2 separate regions of the Homo sapiens genome follow, and region 1 is linked to region 2. The links come from fine-mapping of genetic effects on gene expression. A gene starts in region 2. The other region holds a variant in brackets. All regions are shown on one strand. Distances are from middle to middle.

Region 1 (5,388 bases), 51 kb after region 2:
CTGAGTTATGTGCTGTCCCCTAAATACAACCAAGACTGCCCTTTTTCTGGGCTTTTGCCTCTGCCATTCCTTGTTCTCCTTCTTCCTCAGCACAGAATGCCCTCCCAGCCACCTTGACTGGGAAAATCCTTCCTCAGCTCCAGCCCACGGTTGGTTCCTCCTCAATGAAACCTTGCTAGGCCAACTCTCCTTTAGACCACCTAGGTATGCTGTCTAGTGGATATGTGCTTCTTTTTTCTTTTTTTTTGAGACAGGGGTCTTGCTCTGTTGCCAGGCTGGAATGCAGTGGCACCATCATAGCTCACCAGGAGCCTTGAACTCCTGGGCTCAAGCAATCCTCCTGCTTCAGCCTTCCGAGTAGTTGGGACTTCAGGCAAACACCACCATGCCTAGCCAGTTTTTTTTATTTTTAATTTTTTTGTAGAGACAGAGTCTTGCTGTGTTGCTCAGGCTGGTCTTGAACTCTTGTGCTCACATCTTCCTCTCAGCTCAGCCTCCCAAACTGCTGGGGCTACAGGTGTGAGCCACTGTGCCCAGCCTATATGTGCTTCTTATGTATATCATAGATTGTGGCCTTACTCTATATTAGTTCTTGCATTGCTATTTAGCTTTCCCTACACAGGCCTCATCTCTACAACTAGACCATAAACTGCTTGAGGGAAAGATGTGGTCTTCTATGTCTTTGGATCCCTTACAGTGCTTACATAGTGCTTGGTCCCAAGGGAGTGCTCATAGTATTCTTTTTTATTGGCAGATTCTACATAACACATTGCAAATGGTCACAACAATCAAGACTATATCCATAGATGTCCCAGAAATAATATCTGACTATACAGAGCAGCATTACCAAGCCACCAAGAAGTCTGCCTAGTAATGACAATGATAACAACAGCTAACACTTAGTAAGTGCTTGTGATGCATCTGGCATTCTTCCAGGTACTTTCCTTAAATGCATGTGACAACCCTATGAAGTTATTACAATTACAGTCCTCATTTTACAGATGGGGGAACTGAGGCACAGAGCAGTGGTATAGGTGCTCAAGCTGGTAAATAGCAGAGCTGGGATTTCAACTCGGGCAGTCTGGTTCCAGAGTCAGAGCAGAAGCATGGCACCTGCTGTCTCTCTACAGACAGCAAAGGGGTTGGGGAGAGGATGAACTAGGAAGAGCCAGAAATGACAGAAAGAGCTACTAAAGCTTCTACCATTTTTGCTGTTCATGTGCAATGCTTAGCAACTATGTGCCAAAATAATTATTTCAGCAATTAAACAGGTCCTCTAGTTTCTTATGGTGTCAGCTTGTTAATTTAAAAATGCAATTTAAAATACGTTCACAAAATGATTAGCTCAGAAGATGACTGATCACCTTTCTTCTCTCATTAGATATCTATTTGATATGTCTAATGTGAAATTTTTCTTATGTTTAATTACACTATCTCAGCAAAGTTATTTACAATTGATCATGATAGAACCACCTTTACCTGGTTAGAACATGATAAATAATTAACATAAAATGGCAAAAATAGAAGTCTTTTGACTTCTATTTTTATAACTAGGAATAAAAGTGTTAGTTATAGCAGAGAGAAATTATAATGGAGAACAAAGAGTATATGTATCAAATATAAACATGAAACATTGTTCAAGTCCCTGGCTAGGCATAGGCCCAATCTGTTAATAAAATTATGTTTTATTTATTTTGTGGTTTTCATTGGATAAAGTCAACAGAGCAGAGGAACAGAGCCACAGATAACTGAAAACCACTTTGGCACTGAGGAGGTATGCAGACAAGATCTGGAAGGGAATCTAGAAAAATGGCAACTTTGGAATAATAGATACCTTTTGTTTTCTTATCGCTTTTATTTTTGTCATGATAAATATTAAGAGTAAAAAGAAAATTCACATTGTTTGTGCCATGGTACTCAGTCAACTTAGGTTTTACTCAATAGCATGTTGTTAATTAATCTTCCAAATTGTTGGGGTATTTCATATGAAGTAGCCCCTACCCCCACCTTGTCCTTTCCCCAGACTCCATTCCTAGATAATCACTTCTGTCAATTCCTAGATAATCACTTGCCTTACTGACAGATTCAGAGGAAGCCATCAGTTTTTTGGGCAGAATGAAGGGACAAATGGTGAACTGGTATCCGGGATGCTGCCTAGAACCCTGTCCATTTAAGAAGACACCCAGGTGATACGCAATGCACAAAAAGCACTGGAACTCCCAGCAGGCAAGCA[C/T]TGCAGTCTATAAACCCTCTATTGAGAAAGGCCATGACATGTCTACCAGGGACACAGATTTGGGAGGCAGAACACAAGACAGGGTGAGGGTGAAAAGCAATGGCTACCTGGCCACGTCAGCCAAATCAGCTCCAAAAATCAATGCGATGACAGTGGTCACAGGCAGATCACTCTCACCTTATAACCTGGGATGGCACAGACCAGACAGATTATTTCATTTTGTTTTTTCATTATTTTTATTTACTTTTTTGGAGAGAGGGTCTCACTCCATTGCCCAGGCTGGAGTCCAGTGGTGTGATCATAGCTCACTGTAACCTTGAACTCCTGGACTCAAGTGATAAACCTGCAGCTGTCTTCCCTGAGTAGCTGGGACTACAGGTACACACCACTACACCGGGCCTCTCATTTTGCTTAATTTATTTAATTAGTCAACTAATTTTGAGGGAGGGCAGATTTTGGAAGTAAAGGGCATAGATGGTTCTGTAGTATGCGGAAATCTGAAGCTTTGCTAAGATGGGATCAACATGAAGCATCTGTACATGTACAAATTAGCAAATGTTACCATGACTAACAGTAAAATGAAGAATTAAGGAAATTATAAGGTTAATTTCCTTGAAGTCTCTCAGTAGTCATTTGTGTCTATAGGTGATTTTGTATTTTACAACATTGTATTTTCTAATTTCATGAAAGGAAAGCTAACCAAATTCGTGGATTTTATTTTTTGCCTCAGCCTCAAAAAGCCTTAGGGCTGATTCAGGCCTGGTTGTAGCAATCGGCTGTCTCAAAGGCCTCCTGCATGTTTAAATAGCTTCTCTCCTGTTTATTTTGCACTGTTTTATCCTGTAAGCTGTCTCGAGGCCCTTCCAATATAAGCATGAGGATTTAAATCTTAATAAATTGAGATTTGAATAACAGAGGTAATCTGGGCTTGGGGGGTCTTGAATTATTGGGATAAACATCTCTGTTTCTCATCTGCACATTATGCATGTGCTGTACACATTGCCCCATGACCAAGGTCAGAAATAATAAAATAGTCATAGCAGAAATAATACTGATAATATTTAGAGTTAAATAGCACTTTTCTGTTTGTAAGGACTTTTTTATGTACAGGTTCTCCTTCTATTCTTGGAATAGTCCTAACCAGTAGAAAGATCAGGTGTTATACCCACTTTAAAAATGAAGCAACTGAGTGACAAAGAGATTAAGACACATTCAAAACAATATGGACAAGTGGAGGCAATAGGACTGGAACTCAGGTCTTCCTGATAGCTTTCCCACAATTTTGCCAGATGTGTTAACATTATGTGTGCTAACAATAAGACTCAACTCAGTGACATTCCAATTAAACTTACTGGAGATGTCTTTTTATAAGCTTATGACAGGGACATTGTAGAAGTCTGGAGTTAGCTCTTTTTTAAAAAAGATTGCCACAGAGATTGCTCATGAGTTCAACTCTGGGGTTGAAAGTGATAAACAAGCAATGCTCAAATACCTTTTTGTAATCTCCTATTATTTTGAAGGAAGGAGTAAAAATATATATAACTTCTTTAATTGTAATTTAACACCAAAATATTTCTTCTATCCTGTAATTTCTTATCATTCAAAATTCTAAGGAGTTGAATTTTAAGACATAAGTGGAGACATACAAATCACAAAGATATATTCTAACAAACATTAATAGAAACAACAACAATTAAAAAGGCTTACCTTGCAGCCTTCACATGTAATGACACCATAATGGATTCCTGATGATTTGTCTCCACAGATCTTGCATGGAATAATTTCAATTTGAGCTGCAACAGAAGCACGCAACCAGTTAATTACATTTTCTTTTAAACACCTTATAAAAGCGTTCCCTGATCAGCATTTGTATAGTGAAAACTAATAACCTGCTAAACATTATACTGCATTAACTATTCATTGCTGAACTGTGAGGGTCCCCCTAGAGCCCTGGACTAAATTATGGCTGCTCGTTATATAATAGCTTTCGGGTTATTAAAATGGGTCATTTGAGAAGGTGTTTAAGAACCCACAAGAAGACTGGAATCAGCATTTCAAAGCCTTCAAGAACTGGAGAGTTCGCAGTTTAGGCCTCAGAGCAAAGCAGATACTGAAATGTTTCCTCCAATCTCATTTTCTATCATTATTTTTAAAAGATCATAAATCTGTCTTGGCTGAGCATTACAGCTTGACTGCTAGAGAAAAATACACTCTAAAAAGTCAGGTCTAGTTAGGAAAATGATTCAATTCAAAATATTAATCAGTTACATATGATAAGAATTCCTTATCTTTTAAAAAATTAACGCAGTTGCCATGTGTTAAAAATTAGTCCATTTGTGTACAATCAGAACCTTTCAACCATAGAGTTAATATCTTGTTTGAATTTAATAATGATGAATCCTGACAAATAGGATGTGTTGCTTCTGAGTTCTTTACACTGGAAATTTAGTTCCTGGTACAGAGGGCATGTGTTTCTACCCAACTGATTACTTAAAGATGCCTCATGCTGGAAGACCCGCAAATAACATGTATCACACCAAAGTTCTCAAATAAGGCAAAGCACATTTCTAAGCAAACACATTATACCTCAGAGTTAAAAAGAGCATAATTAAGGATAAAAAATAAGGAATAATTAGGCAAAAGAAAATCCTTAGATCAACTATTAAATAGAATTTATATGTGAAATAAAGACCAATGCTGAGCTGTATAGACAGGATGGGAACAGTCACCAGTTTACCTGGAATGTGTCATTACGCTAAATTCATTTTCCATGGTTTTCACTACTGGGTATCATGTTAGATTACCTACTGAGTTACACACACAAACACAACTGCAAGTGCCCAAGTCTATTTCATTTCTGTACAGCCCTTACCTAGCCCCAGACCTTACACAGAGTAATTTCTTTGTCCAAAGAATATGTCACATAGTGTAAGTACCACACAGAGACACACAGCCCACTCTTTCTTCTAATGTAATCCCATATCCTGGGATGATTTCACAACCACTTACTTTGGATTTAAGGTGATGTTGCATTCGATACTTAGAGCACACATGAAACTATTGGATTTAACCTCATTATAAACCATGTGTACTGCTAACTCCCTTTCTCAGGGCCTAATACAAGTACTGTGGTGACTTTTAGGGAGTGCAAGCTA
Region 2 (5,372 bases):
TGGGATAACTGGTTTGCTAAAACCACCTCAAAGGTGATATGATTTTTCATAACACCATAATTAATTTAGAGACTAACATATTATATTCAATGCTTTCCATATAGTTAGGCATCCAAAAATGCTGTTTGAATGAAGGAATTAAAAACTTGAAAACACTGAATCCATTAACGTTACTAGGGAGGACAAAGGTCAGTAAAATTCCGTGGAAAAGGATAATTCCAAGGGCTACAATATTGTGCAAAGGTTCTAAACCACAACTAGTTCCACAATGCCGGTGGTATACAAGAGCATCTGTGCTACATCTGAATGCATACTTTATAGCACTGGCAAGGAATGCAAATGTGCATACCTCTTACCTAATCAAATGGTAACTTCTGGGTGTCCTAGTGCCCAGATAGGAAATTCTAGCATATTTGCTCCATACTCTTCTCCTTTTTAAACTGTTCTTAAAGGCATTTATCCAAAAAACTATATTAAGGTATTAATGGTAAAATTAGAAAGTCTTATTTGCTATGCATCAGTATAGTTTCTTATTACCTTGTCGTGGTATTGTATCTGTGACATCTCAATAAATTCTTAAGTTTCTGCACATCATATAAAAACAAAGTAAAGGGTCTCAGGGATTGTGAGCTCCCTGGGGATGGGAGTGTTGTTAGCAATAAACAAATACTCAATGAACATACTGACTTAATAGTCTGAGTCAGGTACTATTTTAATACTCTTTGTAACCATTTATAACATTTGATCCTCCTTGGCTGGCTTAGTAAATGTGTGTTAAAATGAACTAAAGCAGCACATGTATTAGCTAGATGGCTACAAAACCACTATATTATTTAACCAGGTTCTCTATTTGCAAAGTTCTCATACACTTTTAAAATACAGTCTATGCATTTATATCATTTGATATAGATTTCAATATAACAAAAAGCATGTCTATTCTTAAAGAGGGTCTTTTTTATTACTTGTATGGAAATGGGCCAAGGTTCTTGGACTCAAGAAAATTCCAGTATCTCTCCTTCACAGGAGACCAACAATAAATACCTGAGGGAATTATACCTAAAAATAATTTGAGTGCTGAACTGTGTTGTTCCACTATAGGAGTGGAAGTACAGTCAGCCATAACTCTAGCATTCCGTATGTGAAGATGAGGATAGGGTAAATTCTGAGACCCTAAACTTGTATTTTCTGTTTCCTCCAAATCTCTCTATGCCAGAAATCTATTTTCTTATGTCAACCATCAGCCCCACTACACTCCTCTTCAGTGGATTACAAAGTGGCTACAACTCACCAATTCAGTCCTGGTTCACTTATGACCATCTTGGAGCTCATCTTCCTAGATTTCTGCTTCACTCTAGCTCACAGTTCACAGCTGCCTGGCTGCGAAGGCTCCAAGAGGCAGGATCCCTCCAGAACTTACTCAGCTGAGTAAAAACAAAAGGCCAAGATCAAAAGCAAGTGATTGGCTAGGCCAGGTGCTATTAGGTGAGGAAGAATCTCTCCCTAAACATCTACCCTCAACAGACTGTGGCACCTAAAACAGAATACAGCAGACCCAAGGTTCTTTGTAGCAGAGCAGCAATGACGATACAGGACGAGCCCTTTTCCATTTAATCTACGCCGGGAGTGTTACTCTCAGGACACTCACTATGGAAATAAGAGCTGAAACAGAACGGTGTTCTCATTGCTTACATACTAGGCCACTTGATGGCATGGAACGGGAAGTCAACTCAGTTTTCCATTCCCTTACTGCCAAAATAAATCTTTTGTTTTCCCGACCATGCTTTGTTATGGGGCAGATTCTGGCAGGCACTTTATGACAAAAGCTACCTCGATATCAGGAATCTTAGGCCTTTCACAAAGAACCTCACATTTGAGAAGACTTGAGGTCAACTTAAGTGACATTTCACAAGATCACTTACAGACATCATCAGGACTACAAATCAGGCTTGATCTCTCATGTTCAGTACTTCTCCTGTGACCCCAGGCAGACTGATAAAGTGACCTGCGAGAACCTAATCAAATTTAGGAGTCGGTCTCTCGACACCGAACGGGCCCGACCGGCTCCCACTTAATCTACCTCTCACACTTCGACCCAGTGTGGAGCTGGGGGGGAATAGTCGAGGAAGGCAAAAGAAACGGCTGAGGGAAAGGGGACGCAAAGAGAGGGGAAACAAGGTTCCAGAAAAGCAGGTAAAAGGGCAAGCAAAGCAGGGGTAGGAGCCGCGCAGAGCCAGGAGCAAAGGGTCCTGGCCCGGCCGCCATGTTCCCTCCTCCCGCCCCTGCATGAGCACGCCCGCTGGCCCGGCAGCGCCCTCCCGTCCGCGTCTGGGCTGCAACACAGCCTTTCCGCCCACCTCATGGTCCGCGGCGGCTCTTGCCCAGGCCGCAGCCACACACCACACACGCTCCACCCCACTCCTCACATTGTCGCGCGCGCCCAAAAAAGACCATATTTAAAGGATGTGGCCGCGCCGACTCGGCCCTGCGTGATGACGTCTCAGCGACATAGTGGGCGGGGCCTTGCGTCTTGACGGCTGCTCCCCTCCTTTCCTCCCGCCACAAGCGCTCGCTGTGGTTCTGGCAGCGAAGTGCGAGACTGGGCTCGCCAGGCGGAAGTGGTTGGAGACTGCGTGTTTTCCTAGAAAGTCCTCGACCTTCGTCGGGGAGAGGAGGGGAGTGATAAATTGGAAGGCGGACAAGCGACAAGTGCGGTACTGGAAAGACCCAAACATACTTGGTTGTGACCTCAGGCAAGTTTCCTGACTTCCGTAACCCAAACTCCTCATATGTAAAATGGAGATGAAATTGTTACTGCTGCATCATACGGTTTTTTGGAAAGGATTAAATGAAACAAAGGAAGAAGCTGTGCTCTGCACAGTACCTGGCACATAGTAGGGCCTCATTAAGTGCTCCTTCACCTCCGCTCCACTCCCCATCCAGTTTTAGCTGTGAGTTCAAACACTAGTTTTGTTCTCATCCATTACGGAAAGATTTATTGACCGTAAACAGAGTACTTTGTGCTTGGTGCTGGGTACACATGGACTAAGACTGAATACTGATTTTTCCAGTGCTTTGGATCTCTGGCAATCTAAGACATTTACATTAAATACAATAGAAAGTAATAAACTACATAAGAAAGGTGTATAGATTGAGGTTAGAGGGAGAGGAATAGCTAGTGTGAGGGACAAAACGCAGTTTTGAATAGTATTGAGTACTTACATGTCAGTTGCTGCACTGAGCACCTGCCGTGTGAGCTCATTTGAAGAATGTGGGTATGTGGAATGAAGAGAAAGGGCGTTCTAGACAGACCAGCACAAGTGTCAAAAGACAAAAATTTGACACATCTAAAGATCTCAGTTGGCCTTATTGCGATTCTGGAATCAGGCAACACTTCATTCCATAAAATGGAATGAGTGTCCCAATGAGTGGAACAGAGGAGGTTGGCATTACGGACAGAAAAAAGGTCTGTAGAAAGTAGAAACAAAGAACAAAAAGCAGATTGATCATTTCAAAGTTACTTTCCTGGTAAGGTGGAGACAGACAGTACAATAGAAAGATAACTGATTGGTTAACATCAGGTTACTTCAAGTTACTCTTTGCTGTAGGGACTAAAACAGAGGAAATTCATTATCTTGCTGATTGAAAATTGAAACTGGCCTGTTACCTCTGTCTCCTGATTTCTTGGAGGGCCACATAACTCAGTTTCGGTGTGGTGAGCCTGAGTGATACCATTTTTATTTTAGTCTGGTCTCTTGGGGTCTAGTGCAGAAGTTCTAAACAATGGCCTCCTATAATTTTTTTTAATACAAGGAACTGCATAAACTTATTGCATAAACAGAATCTAGTGTGTGCTATTAGGGAAGCATGTTCTACATTTTATTTTAAGACAGAGTCTCCCAGACTGGAGTGCAGTGGTGTGATCTCAGCTCACTGCAACTTCTGCCACCTGGGTTCAAGCGATTCTCCTGCGTCAGTCTCCCTAGTAGCTGGGACTACAAGTGCATGCCACCACACTTGGCTAATTTTTGTATTTTTTTTTTAGTAGAGATGGGGTTTGCCAGGGTGATCTTTAACTCTTGACCTCAAGTGATCTGCCCACCTTGGCCTCCCTAAGTGCTGGGATTACAGGTGTGAGCCACTACCCCTGGCTGACATTTTAGACTGATTTAGAATATTGTTAGAAATTATGTTAATGTAAAAAATATGCTACAGGAAACCATAGGTAGTTTATTTTGCCTGGAATGCAAGGTCTCTGAAGAGTAGTAGAGGAAAAGGGGTTGGAAAAACTGGTTGAAGCTAGAACACGTAAGATTTTATAAGCCAGACTAAGGAAGTTTGACTTTATTGCATAAGAAATAAAATGCTAGGAAACAAACAAACAAAAAAGCTTACATAATGACACAATCAGAACTGGCTGGCTGTGCTTCAGGAAAGTTCACCTGGCAACCTACGGAATTCATTGAAGGGAGGAGGCCAGTTAGGAGACAGTGTTTGTGAATGCTTAAAAAAATCAACCACTACAATGCCTGGCACTGTGCAGATAGCATTTCTTTTTTTCTTTTTCTTTTTTCTTTTCTTTTCTTTTTTTTTTTTTTTTTGAGATGGAGTCTCCCTCTGTCGCCCAGGCTGGAGTATAGTGGGGCGATCTTGGCTCACTGCAACCTCTGCCTCTCGGGTTCAAGCGATTCTCCTGCCTCAGCCTCCTGAGTAGCTGGGATAACAGGTGCATACCACCACGCCCGGCTAATTTTTGTATTTTTAGTAGAGACAGGGTTTCACCATGTTGGTTAGGCTGGTCTTGAACTCCTGATCTCGTGATCCGCCCACCTCGGCCTCCCAAAATGCTGGGATTACAGGCGTGAGCCACCATGCCTGGCTGCAGATAGTATTTCTTATTAGGTAAGTGATGTGGATGGCTTGTGTAGGACAAAGGCAGCGTAAAAGTTCATGTGTTGGGTACTGTCTCACAAAGCATGCAGTCAGGAAGAGTTGGGGACACCTGACCTGGCCTGAAGGAACTGCTCTAATTGTTTAAGAGCTCATGCTGCTGGGAGGTACCTGCCCATGGTAGTGTGATATGGTAGCATTACCATACAGCTCTGTGTTGAGATTTCAGATCATCACCAAACAGTATGCTCTGAACTGGTATATCTGAGTTTCAATGGTTGCAAGATAGCACACAGAATCAGAATTTTTAGAATCAGAACACGATTTGGAGATTATCTAGTCCAACCCTCTTGTTTTCCTTACAAGGAAATGGGCTCGTTTCAAGATTGTCAAGTGACTTTTCCAACATCACATGATCAATGATAAAACTGATACTAAAACTCAGGTCTCATAATTCTTGCCAACGTGTGCATTGTGCATCTTCC

Direction of the effects. Alleles are on the strand shown, and positions count from the first base shown. SD is a standard deviation of normalised expression in the study named.
In carriers of allele C in region 1, the expression in testis of the gene that starts at base 2,530 in region 2 tends to be lower than with T alone (large effect, 1.0 SD a copy in GTEx).

The links.
Region 1: its variant is fine-mapped to the expression of RORA-AS1 in testis (GTEx, PIP above 0.99).

The regions. Positions count from the first base shown.
Region 1 is chr15:60,527,826-60,533,213 of GRCh38, forward strand. RORA (RAR related orphan receptor A) reads right to left here. Exons shown (of 11, transcript NM_134261.3): 3 at 3,941-4,026. All of the region lies in intron 3 of RORA-AS1 (RORA antisense RNA 1), which reads left to right. Among named protein-coding and RNA genes, the nearest start is that of RORA-AS1, 51 kb to the left of the region's middle. The variant C/T (reference allele first, on the strand shown) is at 2,234.
Region 2 is chr15:60,476,649-60,482,020 of GRCh38, forward strand. It overlaps RORA-AS1 (RORA antisense RNA 1), which reads left to right and starts at 2,530. Exons shown (of 6, transcript NR_120342.1): 1 at 2,530-2,750. ICE2 (interactor of little elongation complex ELL subunit 2) reads right to left here and starts at 2,494. Exons shown (of 16, transcript NM_024611.6): 1 at 2,355-2,494; 2 at 1,289-1,421. The coding sequence starts at 1,329. RefSeq lists enhancers at 1,326-1,445, 1,768-2,295.